Linked DNA regions of Homo sapiens. The protein of the gene in region 1 purifies or fractionates together with the protein of each later gene. This does not show direct contact. Each region holds a gene or a part of one and is shown in the gene's direction. Other genes may lie near its edges.

Region 1 (7,020 bases):
TACCAAACTGGTGCCTAAAAGCAGTGAAACCACCATTGGACTAATTGGAATGATTTGTCTATTGGCTGAAGATTTGACCACAGAGAGATTCTGCTTTTTTTTCCTTGCAGGGATGAAAAATTAAAAAAAAAAAAAAAGATTGGTTCCTTTTTCTCTTCCTAGCCTCCTGACAGTAAGTAGAGAGCCAGAAGAATGATGCCAAGGCATCCTGGCCTGCTATGTGGAGAACGCTCTTTCCTTACTGTCTCACTTAATAGAACTCCTGTTCTGGCAGTGTCAGATGCTGCAGCAGCAAGGGAATGCCATTGAGTGATTGCAGTAAGCTATGCAGCATTTTCATGTTTAAAACTACTGAGATAATAAAGTGAGAACTTGAGGCCACCAAATTTTAAGTTGTAATTAGAAGGATTTTGTTAATTAGGAATATGAGAGTGCTACAGTGATCACCTGGAATGGCTCCATAAATACAAATGAGGTGTTAACTAGTGAAGCAAGTTGCCAGTGTTTGTGTGTTTGGTGAGACTCCTAAGTTCTGCCATGAAGTTAAAGAAAATATTTTTTAAGATTCAAGAAAGCTGTGTGAATGAATTCAAAATTATTATGACTGTAGATCTTTTAAAAAGCTATCAGTATTAGTTTTACTTTGATTTTTATCTAAAGAGAAATACAGAATGAATACTTACAGCATTACAATTCAAATGTGCGTGGCTTTTTTTTTTCTTAGTTACTAGATATATAGTAGTAATACCTTTATGTAATATTTTGAAGTAGAGATTGAATTGGTATAATTCCCTACCTTAAAAATATTACACAATAGCATTTTTGTCATATATTACGATAGCATTTTTGTGTACTTTACCACTTAACTTTTTTTTTCCTTTTCTTTTTTTTTTGGAGACAAAGTCTTGCTCTGTCGCCCAGGCGGGAGTGCAATGGCAGGATCTCAGCTCACTGCAACCTCTGCCTCCTGGGTTTAAGCCATTCTCCTGCCTCAGCCTCCTGAGTAGCTGGGACTATAGGCGTGTGCCACCACGCCCGGCTAATTTTTGTTTTTTTAGTTTTTTTTGGAGACGGAGTCTCGCTTTGTCACCCACACTGGAGTGCAAATGGCATGATCTCGGCTCACTGCAGCCTCCACCTCCTGGGTTCAAGCGATTCTCTTGCCTCATGCACCACCACGCCCAGTTAATTTTTGTATATTTAGTAGAGATGGGGTGTCACTATGTTGGCCAGGCTGCCGACCTCAAGTGATCTTCCCTCCTCAGCCTCCCAAAGTGCTGGGATTACAGGCATGAGCCACTGCCCCTGGCCAGTGTCAGATGTTTAGTTTGTCATTAAAATGGAGCAAGAATACATAACTCGTGAGGTTGTAAGATTATAGATATGTTTACTAATGACTGACTCATAGATATCCAGCTGTTAAAACTCTTCAAGAAGTAATCAGGGCAGGCGGAAATGGATGTAATTAACCAAGGTCAAGCAGTAAGTTCAGGAACCAGGATAAAAATACAGAATTGCTCCCGAGTAAGTACTCTGTTTTCCATTATTCTGGCTGGAATGCAGGTAATACAGAAAGTATATTGCTTCCTTTCATTGCTTTTTTTTTCTTCTTTTTTTCCTTTGAGGTGGAGTTTCGCTCTTGTTGCCCAGGCTGGAGTGCGATGGCATGATCTCGGCTCACCGCAACCTCTGCCTCCCGGGTTCAAGCGATTCTCCTGCCTCAGCCTCCTGAGTATTTGGAACTACAGGCACGGGCCACCACACCCGGCCAATTTTGTGTTTTTAGTAGAGACGGGATTTCTCCATGTTGGTCAGGCTGGTCCTGAGCTCCCGACCTTTGGTGATCCACCCACCTCTGCCTCCCAAAGTGCTGGGATTACAGGTGTGAGCCAGCACACCCGGCCCCCATAGTTCGTTTTTATTAAAAGAATCTGGGCCATCCTGGCTAACACGGTGAAACCCCCGTCTCTACTAAAAATACAAAAAAAAAGTAGCCAGGCGTCGTGGTGGGCACCTGTAGTCCCAGCTACTCGAGAGGTTGAGGCAGGAGAATGGGGTGAACCTGGGAGGTGGAGCTTGCAGTGAGCCGAGATCGTGCCACTGCACTCCAGCCTGGGCGAAGCAAGACTCCGTCTCAAAAAAAAAAAAAATCTGAAGTGTTTCAGTACCATGTTGGGACAGTAAACTGACTTAACGGAGCATAATAATGTGCATACTTACATACATTCAGAGGGCAAAAGCTCCAGTATGGTCTAAATGCAGTTAAGTGAACAACATGAATGAGTCAGGGATAACCCTGAGCTTGCGAAAAGTAAGCATATATACAAATGTGAATGTGTACAGCTGTGTTAGAAAACCATATAAAATAATAAAGATAGCCAGAATCATACCCTACTTTGCTAGTGTCATTTTTATCTCCAACTTGCCTGTTGCTACTTTATTTTAAATGTATTTTCTAGGACAGAGTTATGAACATTCTATTTATTAGAACCCTAGTTGTTAGTCTTGACCACATACTGTTAGATTTTAGTAGTTTACTATATTTGTTTTTAGTATCAATAGTATGGTACAAGTACTGACATTAAGGAAGACAAATTAGTATACTAACCATTTGTGGTTTCTTTAATTCCAAGATAAGTTCAAAATGTGTAAAATAGTTACACCTCTTAGTTTAGCATACATGGCTCCTCACAGTAAATCTTAAGTCTTGTCAGACCTTATTTTTTTTTTTTTTTTTTTTTGAGACAGAGTCTTGCTCTGTTGCCCAGGCTGGAGTGCAGTGGTGCGATCTTGGCTCACTGCAACCTCTGCCTCCTGGGTTCAAGCAATTCTTGTGCGTCAGCCTCCTGAGTAGCTGGGATTACAGGCATGCACCACCATGTCCAGCTAATTTTTGTATTTTTAGTAGAGACAGGGTTTCACCATGTTGGCTAGCTGGTCTCGAACTCCTGACCTCAGGTGATGCATCTGCCTCGGCCTCCCAAAATGCTGGGATTAGAGGTGTGGGCCACCCCGCCCGGCCCAGACCTTATCTTGACTATCTTAGTCATTTCTTCTCTTGCCTGACATGCCCTGTGCTCCTACCACCCTTTAAAGTGGTTTGTGTCATAAACATTTGATACACAAAAATGGAAACTTAGGACAAATATCTTGATGTCTGGTGGTTGAAAATGTGAACTGATTTGGAAATCACCGGTGTTTCTCCTCTTAATCTCTTCTCCATTCCATTCAGGAAATAGACTGTAAGGTGGGAAACAAGTATAAGCAGTTAGCCTCACTCTAAACCTGCTATGTAATAGACATTGGACTGAGTTCTGTCTACTCTCTGTAAGCAATCCAAGGTAATTGGCGAAAGTGGAAGGAATATGTACTCAGAAGACCAAAACTTTGGTTTTTAAATTGAATATCTATTAAGCACAAGGTAACAATTCTTACCACACACATCAGTTTTATTATTTCCCTTTTACAAATAAGACACAGATGGGTAGTCAGATGTCTTTGAGGTAACACAGCAAGTAGTTAAACTGGGTTAAGTGATTAACCCAGGTTGAGTATGGTTCCAAAATCTCTTACAGTGTCAGGCAGGCTACATCAGTGCAGTATACGTACATCAGGTTTCACGAAAAATTTTTTCCAGAGAAAACACAAACCCAAGGAACCTTCAGTAAGTGGTGCCTTATATTAGTGGTTTTTAGCAAAAGGAAGAAACTTAAGTGTTTTCCTGCTGCCTGACAAAAGTGAAAAACAGTATTTTGGTTTTTATTGAAGTTAGCATGTATGTTTGTAGCTTGCATAAAATAGTACTGAAATCCAATTGATTATGAATTCTTGGACTAACAGAACCTGGATGACAAATTAGAGGTTCTGGCCTGGTTGCTGGCTTTTTTAGTTGTCTTGGGTGTAAATTTCTCAGCCACACGTGGGGATTGTGTTAGATAATCTGAAATCTAATTTTCATGGTTTTATGATTCAGCAGCTTTCTTCCTTTGATATTTTCTAGTATTTGCTTTATTATAGATTGGAATCCTCAAAATAACATTGACAAGTAGAAGATACTTCTGTTAGTGGATTTAAAAAAAAATTACATTGGGAATGTCCTTTGAGTGGTTGGCCCTAATCCCTGTCAGAAGCTGAAAGTTGTGGATCCTAAATTCATCTGGGCAGAATCTCACCTATGATTTCAGAAAGCTGAGAGTTTCAGAGAGTGACTGTAGTCAGTCCTTAGTGAGTACAAAATTGAGAATACATCATTACTTTAAATTAATGGTGCAGTAACTCTTGTGACTGATAGCAATAATTTAGGTGCTTTGTTGTTAGTACTTGATTAGATTGGATTGGGTCAGTTAGTTTCACCAAATTGCTAAAGACACCTGTCCCCCTAGAATTAAAATACTGAGTTACATAATGGCTACTAAAAGGATAACTATATGGGGTGTTCGATGATTCAAAGGTGAATTACTTGGTCTCTACCTTCAAGGAATATGATACAAGGCAATATGGTACTGCCATTAGACAGATATTAACAAAGTGTCTTGGGACTTAATAGGGAGGGTAGTTCCAGGCTGGGAGATGTAGTCAGATTCTTTTATAGAGTTGGCATTTGAGTTGGCCCGTGAAGGTTGGAAAAAGTTGTGACAGGTGGAAAAGGAGCAGGGGAGACCAGGACAGTGCAGTGAAATTCCAGCCAGGAGCAGTCACAGGCAATGAGACAGACTCATGGAGCCATGATTCTCAGCTGTCTTACCTTACCTTAGTTTTCCTAAGGAATATCATGGAATTCTGTAAAGACCTTTAAACTAAATAATGTTCATATGAGATGAGTGCTAGGATGGGGACCTGCTGCCTAATATAAGTAGTGTGAGTCTAAAACATTGTGGAAAGTGGTTAGTTTAATAATGTTATTAAAGAGACAAGTCTATCACAAGGGACCAGTTACCAGTGAAACTGTAGACCACCTGATTCACTGCGATAGGGTTAGCCAAAGGGAGGAGAGGGCAGATTGCATACATAGTACCTAAGGCCACTCAAAGACCTCTTTTAAAATCACGTGTCATGTTGATGACATTTGGAGGCTATTAATGTTTTTCTTCCCTTTTAAGACTTAGTGTTTTCTTTATTAGCATTAATTTACTCTAGTAAACAAAATTATGTGTGACTAAAAATGGCAAAACAGGCTGGGCGCAGTGGCTCACGCCTGTAATCCTAACACTTTGGGAGGCCAAGGCGGGTGGATCACTAGGTCAGGAGATCGAGACCATCCTGGCCAACATGGTGAAACCCCGTCTCTACTAAAATACAAAAAATTACCTGGGCGTGGTGGTGCACGCCTGTAGTCCCAGCTATGTGGGAGGCTGAGGCAGGGGAATCGCTTGAACCCAGGAGGTGAAGGTTGCAGTGAGCCAAGATGGCGCCACCGCACTCCAGCCTGGTGACAGAGCGAGACTGTCTCAAAAAAAAAAAAAAAAAAGCAAAACATCTAAAACTTCTGTTATATTCTAGTGTGTAAAGTTCTGCCTTTGCCACTGAGATGCATATCTGTTTTACAGAATAGTTTTTTTTCTTTCTTTCTTTCTTTGAAGACGGAGTCTTGCTCTGTCACCCAGGTTGGAGTGTGGTGGCCCAGTCTCAGCTCACTGCAACCTCCACCTCCCGGGTTCAAGCGATTCTCCTGCCTCAGCCTCTCGAGTAGCTAGGACTACAGGCGCGTTACCACCACGCCTGGGTAATTTTTTTATTTTAGTAGATTTGGGGTTTCACCATGTTGGCCAGGATGGTCTTGATTTCCTGACCTCATGATCCGCCTGCCTCCCAAAGTGCTGAGATTACAGGCGTGAGCCACCACGCCTGCCCTAATTTTGTGTTTTTAGTAGAGATGGAGTTTCACTGTGTTGGTCAGGCTGATGTCCAACTCCTGACCTCAGGTGATCCTCCTGCCTTGGCGTCCCAAAGTGCTGGGATTACAGGTGTGAGCCACTGTGCCCATCCTTGTTTTGTATTTTCTAAAAGAGATGTATCTTGTTTAAATATTAAATTATAAGATATTCAGGCCTTGCAAATTGTCTGGATTACACTGTAAAAGTAATCATTTATGTGCAAATAATTCCTTGAGATCAATAGTTAAATGAGCTCAAGCTGATCTGACTAAATTGGAGAAGATACAAAATGAAGATGGGGAGGAAGTGGTGCCATAAGCAGCCTTTTTTCTTTGACCATTTTATATGCCTTTTTTTTTTTTTTTTTGAGATGGAGTTTCACTCTTGTAACCCACGTTGGAGTGCAATTGCTTGGCTTGCAACAACCTCCACCTCCCGGGTTCAAGAGATTATCCTGCCTCCGCCTCCTGAGTAGCTGGGATTATAGGCATGAGCCACCAAGCCTGGCTAATTTTGCATTTTTAGTAGAGACGGGGTTTCTCCTTCTTGGTGAGGCTGGTCTCGAACTCCCAACCTCAGGTGAACCATCCTCGTCGGCCTCCCAAAGTGCTGGGATTACAGGTGTGAGCCACCGTGCCCTGCCCGCCATTCGTTTTTTTTTTTTTTTTTTTTTTTTTAATTCTGACTCTTCTGTGGTGGAAACCAGCAAATACTTCACATAATTTAGGATGCTAATACTAGTACAGTTAAAAGAATGATTACAAAGCAGATACTATTTCAAATTCTGTAAAAATCTGTTTTTAATATCCTTCACTGGCTGTTTGTTCTGACTAGAAATGTTTTGTATATCTGAAAGCACCAGTAACTCATAGCCATATAATTTTTTTGGTAATATGTTCATAGGCAAGTGGCAAGAGTTAGTAGAAAGATTTCTCTAAGAATTTATCCTAAATCAGATTACACAGAGTTGGGGTAAGTGAGTATTGTGTTATTTTCTTTTGTATATTTGACAATGGGAACTTTTTGAAACTCAACTTCAGTGTAATTTTAAGTCACTAAATTTGTCCACAAGTTAATGATTAAACAGTTACTGAAAGTGGAGAACCTTGCCATTTTTCGGACTGCGTTTTGGGTCTTTGGCACTGTG
Region 2 (7,671 bases), on another chromosome or scaffold:
CCAGCCACACTGGCCTCCCAGCTATTCCTCCAACACAATAAGCACCCTCCTAACTCTGAGCCTTTGCTAGTCTCTCGGCTACTCCCCCTGCCCTCCCACATCAGCACAGCCAGCTCCTTCCTTTCCTTCAGTCTTCACTCAAAAATCACTGCTCAGTGAGCCCTCCCCAGCCTCCCTATCTACAACTTCTTACTCCCCCAACGGCTTCACTTTCCATGCTTTGTTTGTTCTTATTAGCATCTATCACTATCTAGCATGTAGACTGTACTTCTTTTTATTTTGTTTGTCACTCTCCCCTCTTAGAATGGAAGCACTGTGAGGACAGCATTTTATGTGCATATGTGCGTGTCTATTTTGTGCCTGGAACACAGGGGGTACTTAATACATTTTTGTTGAGTGAACAAATGAATATGTTGAGCCTCATCATGACTCTGAGCTGAACAAGCTGAGCATCATCTGCATCTTACAGATGAGGAGACTGAGGCTCTGTGAGCCTATAAAATGGGGAGCCAGATCAAAGCCAGGTCTCCCAATGTCATGACCTTTATATTTTTCCCTTCACCGGTAATACCCTTAGACTTGGTCAGTGGAGATCCTCCCTTGGGCCTCAAATTTTAGAGCATCCCGGAGTCTTTCTCTGGCTGTACCCCTTACCATTAAGTGGGATACAGTGGCTGCCTGGAGTTTGTCCTGCCTCTTCTAGATCACGTTGCAGGTACCCAGGACTCTGGAGTTCCCTGCTCAGATAGTCTTGAGCCTGCTGACAAGACCAACATTGGGGGTTTCTTCCCAGGCTGTCTCTACTCAACCTGGGCCTGAAGGATGGGCACAGGGTGGTTGCTTATAGAATATATGGGTAGAATTTGAACATATGGGCTGCAAGGATCCACCCACATGTGTACAAGGCCCCTGGTGATATAAGATGGAGTTAGGAGCAGAAGAGAAGTGATACAGTAAGAAGTGTAAGAATATGAGCACAATAACTGAAAGTAAAATCTCAATGGATACATTAAACATTAAGTTAGATGCAGCAGAAAAGAGAAGCAATGAACTACGAGATACATCTAAAGTAATTATCTAGAATGCAACACAGAGAGAGTAAGGTATAAAAAATCCAAATAAGAGTTCAAAAAAAAAAAAACCCAAAAACATGAACGTCAGGTGTGGTGGCTTGCACCTGTAATCCCAGCTACTTGGGAGGCTGAGGTGGGAGGATGAGTTGAGTTCAGGAGTTCAAGACCAGCCTCAGCAACATAGCCAGACCCCATCTCCATAAAAACAATTAGCTGGTCAAGGTGGTGCATGCCTGTATTCCCAGCTATTCAGGAGGTTAAGGTGGGGAGGATGGCTTGAGCCCAGGAGTTTGAGACTGCTGTGAGCTATGATTGTGCCAGTGCACTCCAGCCTGGGCAACAGAGTGAGACCTGGTTTCTTAAAAAATAAATAAATAAAATAAAATAAAATAAAAAACTGGAAGGATGGAGTTGAGATGGTTTGGAGTTCCAGAAGGAGATAACAGAACAAAAAAGATACCTGTCCTTAGATCCAGGAATCTCAAATAATCCCTAGGAGGATAAAAAATGAAAATAAAAACTATACTGATGTGTGTGTCTGTATCTATATGTATGTATATATACTATGTATATATACATGTACATATAGTATATGGTGTGTGTATATATGGTGTGTATTTTATACGTATATATGTATATGGTGTATGTGTATAGATACATACACACACACACCATAGACAGAGAAGATATTAAACATCCAGAAAAAAAGATCATCTACAGAAAGACGATGCTGATAGCTAATTTCTTAACCACAGCAACAAAAGAGAAGCCAAAAAAACACAATGGAATATGATCTATAATATGCTGATAAAAATTTCACACCTGTTGAAACTATCTTTCAGAAATGAGGATAAAATAAAGTCATTTTCAGACAAAAACTGGGAGAATTTATTAATACATTATCAGTAAATGCAGAAGGAAAATGATCCCAGCTGGAATATCTGATTTGTAAAGAGTAATGGTGGGAAAAAGTTTGGTAAGTATGAGAGCAAATATAAATTAATGTTGTCTGTAGAAAACCATAATTTAATTTATATTGGAAAGTCATATGATCTTTTTTATTTTTGTTTTTGAGACAGGGTCTGGCTTGGTTTCCCAGGCTGGAGTGCAGTGGTGCGATCTTGGCTCACCACAACCTCTGCCTCCCGGGTTCAAGCAATTCTCCTGCTTCAGCCTCCCGAGTAGCTGGGACTACAGGCACGTGCCACCACGCCCAGCTGATTTTTGTATTTTTAGTAGAGACGGGGTTTCACTATGTTGGCGAGGATGGTCTTGATCTCTTGACCTCGTGATCTGCCCACCTTGGCCTCCCAAAGTGCTGGAATTACAGGCATGAGCCACCACACCTGGCCAGATGTCCATTTTTATTGCCCCTAATCAACACTGTCTGGAGGTGCTTACCAGCACAGGTAACACAAGAAAAAGGAAGAAAGTCATCGTTATTTGTAGATAACATGATAGTCTATGTAGAAGTCTCTGCATAATCTATAGACAAATCATTAGAATTAATAATAATTTAGCAAATATGCTGGAAATAAACATCAATAAATTAAAGTCAACTGTATTTAATACAGCTTATTCCAACAGAATATTATGTGGTTGATAAATTTGACTTTATTAAAACTAATAATTTTTGTCCATCAAAAGATACTTGTAAGATGGGAGAAAAATGCCCCAAACTGAAAGAAATTATTTGCAAGACATATATATATATCTGACAAATTATTGATATACAGAATATATAAATTGTGCATGTAAATCAATAAAATTGCCCAAAAATATCCTGCACAACAAACTGTAAAAAACAAGTAAAAGACTTGAACAAGGCATTTAACATACGACTAAATAGGAATAGCCCATAAACAGATACTCATCATCATTAATGATAGCAAAATGCAAACGAAAACCACAATTCCTTTTCTCAACCATTGGGTTAGCAAAAAATTACGAAGTTGGACAATACCAAGGGTTGGCAGGGTTGCTGAGGAATAAGAACTCTTATGCACTTCTAGTGGGAGTGTAAATTGGTACTATCATATTGCTCAGTAATTTTAGTCCTGGCTGTGTGCCCTAGAGAATCTGCACAAATAGATGAATGTATATGCATGCAAGAATGTTTATAGTAGTATAGTTTGTAATAGCAAATGATTGTTATTTCCCAAATGTCCCTCAATATTAGAGTGAATACATATATTTGAGACATTATATTCATATGATGGAACACTACATAGCAATAAAATGAACTTGGCTATATGTATCGAGATGTGTGAATCTCAAAAGCATGACATTGAACTGATGCAGCAAGACACAGAATACAGGGAGAAGCACTAGAACTGGTAATATTCTGTTTCCTATGCTGGGTGGCTGGGTTCACAGATCTACATTCTATTGTAATTCTTTAAATATGACATATATGTAGGGTACATTCTTTTGTATGTATATGTCACAATAAAAGGTGTCAATGCAACAAAGAATGGGAAAATGGATTCGGTTGTTGAAATAATGAATATCATTAACAGGACCACTGTGAACAAAAATAAGGGCTGTAATGCTATACAAATGGTTATTTGCGACTTGGGATAAAGTTTACAGTGTCTTCATCATACTTGGATTCAAACGGTGATATAATGAAGGTGGTGTGCTCAGGAAAACTGTTAGACAACTCAAAAAGTGGCTCTGGTGATGACAAAGGCAGTGATATTGAAGACACCAAAAGAGGGGTTCTTAACATATTTTCATGAAATTACAGTGAAAAAAGTACTTTTAAATTAACATTTTATATGTGATTTTAACTACATATGCGTGACTGATTAATCTAGTTTCATAATACAAGTCGCCATTTATTTCCTCTACATTTATAATACTGCATATATATTCAAATTGGCCAAAATCTTTCTTTCCAATCATCATGCTGGGATTATGGGGTTATATGTGGCACATACCATTCCTGTATATGTCAGGATGGAAAAAGTTTTACCTGGAATGAATTTTTGCCATTTCTGATCCACATTGTACTTCACACAGTGATTTCCTGAAGGAAATATAATGATCTGTTCATCGAAGTAGAAGATATTGTTGGCCACGTGGGATCGAAGACCAAAAACATGCAGCGTCTGAGCTACCACGGCTGACATGATCTCCCGCCAAACAGTTCTGCTGAAGACCAAGGCAGCGCTTCAGAGTGGAGAGCACCGCCCCGCTCCGACCCCGCCCCCGGCCCGGACTCGCCCTCCCCGCCCTTTGCTCCTCCCCTTGTCTCTCCCCTTTCTCCTCCCCTTGTCCCTCCCCTTTCCCCTCCCCTTGTCCCTCCCCTTTCCCCTCCCCCGGGGTCCTCCTCCGCGCCACCCCACCCCCGCGGCTCCTTTTTCTGCCTTTTCCTTTGTACCCTCACTGCTACCAGCTCCTTCTGGCGACCCCCAGGTACCCCCTCCCACCTTTCGTTTCTCTCTGGGTCAGCAGACCACGCATGTATCCAGAGGCGCTACCTGTAGGGATCCTAAGCAACCCGGACACTTTCAAACGCCGTAGCGGTTCCTATAGCAACGACAAACCGGAAGTATGGTTTGCCGCCGGAAGCGGAAGTCCCAATCAAAAGTTGAGCAGTAGCTGTGAGTTGCTGGCGCTGGAGCGATTCGGTGGCACGTGGAGCCACGGCGTGGGAGTAGGGGGCTGAAGGCAGGCAGCAGCGGCCAGGGCCGCCCTCTGCTAGCCGCTTGGGTCTCGGGATACCCCGTTTCTTCCTGTAGGTGTGGGACGTGCGTGCGGCGAGATGGACACTCCCCCGCTCTCGGATTCGGAGTCGGAATCCGATGAATCCCTTGTCACAGACAGAGAGGTAGGTGTCAGCCGAGCTCGTGGGGCTGGGCGTGGGAGAGGGGGCCTTACACCCCTGGGAGTGACCGTGATTGTGTCCTGCAGTTGCAGGATGCGTTTTCCCGAGGGCTTCTGAAGCCAGGCCTCAATGTCGTGCTAGAGGGGCCGAAGAAGGCCGTGAACGACGTGGTGAGCGTGGGCACAGGGTCGGGGGTACTCGGACATGGGATGCGCTTCAGGCGCTGTTGGGCTTGGGAGACCGATTCTTGTCCCAGGAAAGATGCACCCTGCGCCTCGCCAAGAGGGTCAATTACCTGTCTGGGTATTGGGGATTAGCACTTTGTCCCTTCGCCTAACAGCCTGTGCTTGGGAAAGACAAACTCAGAGTTCCCTTCTTGTGAGCTCAGTGTCTGGATTTCCTAGAATGGCCTGAAGCAATGTTTGGCAGAATTCAAGCGGGATCTGGAATGGGTTGAAAGGCTCGATGTGACACTGGGTCCGGTACCGGAGATCGGTGGATCTGAGGCGCCAGCACCTCAGAACAAGGACCAGAAAGCTGTTGATCCAGAAGACGACTTCCAGCGAGAGATGAGTTTGTATGTTTGTTTTCAAATGTTGGAGAAGTTGAGGATCCTTGTGCAGGAGAGTGGGAAAGAGGGGAAATTAGTAAGTCTGCACTCAGAATAAGCCTAGGAGTAGAGAGAGCGGCTTCTTTTGACTAAGAATAGCTAGGAGATTCTTCCTGTTTGAGAGAAGAGCTCTTTGGTCCACGGTCACGATCCAAAATCCACTTTATGGGCTAATTTGAAATATTCATGTTAAAACTTTTTGTGCATGCTTCAGTTATTAGGAAAACAAACAAACAAACATTGCTTATGGGATGTTCTTGTGTGGAATTGCTTTAGTAATTACATAAGAATCCATAATCGACATTCGTTTGTGTTAATGGGTACCTTTAGAGTAGTCATTCTCTTAAACTATTTTTAGCAACACCCCTCCCCTTTTTAAAAACTAGTATACGGCTACATTTCTTTTAGATACTAAATCAGTGAGACAGTTTTTGTTTGTTTGTTCTTGCTAATGGAGGTCAGATTTTGAGAGTCCTTCTGAGCTTGGATAACTCATGATTGGCGGTGAAAAGGAACGTAAGGCCTCCTCCTTCACCTCATTACACATTTTGTCCTACGATTCTCAGCTATCGCCAAGCCCAGGCCGCAGTGCTTGCAGTCTTACCCCGCCTCCATCAGCTCAAAGTCCCTACGAAGCGACCCACTGATTATTTTGCGGAAATGGCCAAATCTGATCTGCAGATGCAGAAGGTAAGAAATAGAAGTTTTCCTCTGGAAAGTCAAAACTTTGTACTTAAGCATATTCAGCTGGCTTAGAAAGATAGCTATGAGCCCAATAACGGGGAGCCAGTTGTCAGAGGACAATTATTACCTCTTCCATAGATTGGCTACTTCAGAGTCATGCCAGTTACCACCAATTAGATGCATATAAAAATGACATTTTTTCTAAAATCAGCAATTAAGGAGAGGAACAGTGCTGTGTGAAGTGTGGTCCCCGAGGTGAAGATGGCCCAGTGCATTTCCTAGCTGGCATGGTCATGACATGGTGTGCAGAGAGGACAGCATTCTTGTGCCCTTGCCACTGTCAGTGCTAGAACTTGTAGACAATTACTTTTCTCTGGGCCTCAGTTTTCTCCTCTGTAAAATGAGGGATTCTTAGATGGTTCAGATATAGTACAATTTAGAGTTGGGTAGAACTTGGACCTCATTTAACTTTGGAAGAAGGGATTGCCAGCATGTAATCCAACATACATTCAGCCCTCCATAGCCATGGGTTCAGCATCTGTGGATTCAACCAACCTTGGATCAAAAATATTGGGGAAAAAAATTTGAAAATATTGCAAAAGGAAAACTGAATTTTCCGTGTGCCGAGAACTACATTGAATCCATGAGAATGAGGTGATGCATAGCATTGTATTCGGTATTATAAGTAATCTAGAGACTATTTAAAGAAGCGGTCTGGCACTAGAGACTAGTTTCGTGGATGACAATTTTTTCATGAACTTGGGGAGGGGATAGTTTTGGGATGAAACCGTTCCATCTCAGATCATCAGGCATTAGATTCTCATAAGGAGCAGGCAACCTAGATCCTTTGCATGCATAGTTCCATGCATAGTTCACAGTAGAGTTCGCACTCCTATGAGAATTTAACGCCACCACCAATCTGACAGGAGGTGGAGCTCAGGTGGTAATGCTTGCTTGCCTGTCACTCACTTTCTGCTGTGCGGCCTGGTTCCTAACAGGCCACAGATTCATAGTGGGTTCGTAGCGGTCTGTGGCCTGGGAGTTGAGGTCCTCTGACTTTAAAGGATACTGGAGGCGAGTGTAGGTTATATGCAAATGCTGCACCATTTTTATATAAAGGACTTGAGCATCTGTGGATTTTGATATCTGTAGTGGGTCCTAGAACTAATCCTCTATGGATACTGAGGGATAAGTATATTTAAATAGTACCCTGGGGTCTCAAGCTGGATTTTAGGGAGCTTTTGTCGTGGTAGTAGTTCACCTTCTTACTGTGAACTCTGTACAAATTCTCACTGACAACTTCTCATCCTTTAACTAAAATGTGTATGTTTGACTGAAAAGGCTAGGCACCTGGTATCTGCCTGGGTTTTTATTGTGTATGTGGTATACTAGAAAAGGACACTGAGGCCGCATACTGGTTTCCAGCCTCAGTCTACTGACAGTAGAAATGGGGAGAAGTTTGTCTTCTTTCC

What was found. Proteins that work in one complex are often made in the same cells at the same time.
Region 2: the proteins of CNBP (region 1) and EBNA1BP2 purify together in Homo sapiens (affinity purification with mass spectrometry; 3 studies listed by BioGRID and IntAct, with this or other methods). This does not show direct contact.

What each region holds. Positions count from the first base shown.
Region 1 is NC_000003.12:129,173,880-129,180,899, reverse strand, and holds part of CNBP (CCHC-type zinc finger nucleic acid binding protein), read left to right. Parts: intron 1-7,020. UniProt on the Homo sapiens protein: Single-stranded DNA-binding protein that preferentially binds to the sterol regulatory element (SRE) sequence 5'-GTGCGGTG-3', and thereby mediates transcriptional repression. Has a role as transactivator of the Myc promoter.
Region 2 is NC_000001.11:43,169,290-43,176,960, reverse strand, and holds the start of EBNA1BP2 (probable rRNA-processing protein EBP2), read left to right. Parts: upstream 1-4,681; 5' UTR 4,682-4,819; coding exon of another isoform or gene 4,820-4,842; coding exon 4,843-4,908; intron 4,909-4,991; coding exon 4,992-5,075; intron 5,076-5,248; exon of another isoform or gene 5,249-5,309; coding exon 5,310-5,482; intron 5,483-6,081; coding exon 6,082-6,205; intron 6,206-7,671. Other genes in the region: CFAP57 (cilia- and flagella-associated protein 57), read right to left, coding at 4,051-4,207. UniProt on the Homo sapiens protein: Required for the processing of the 27S pre-rRNA.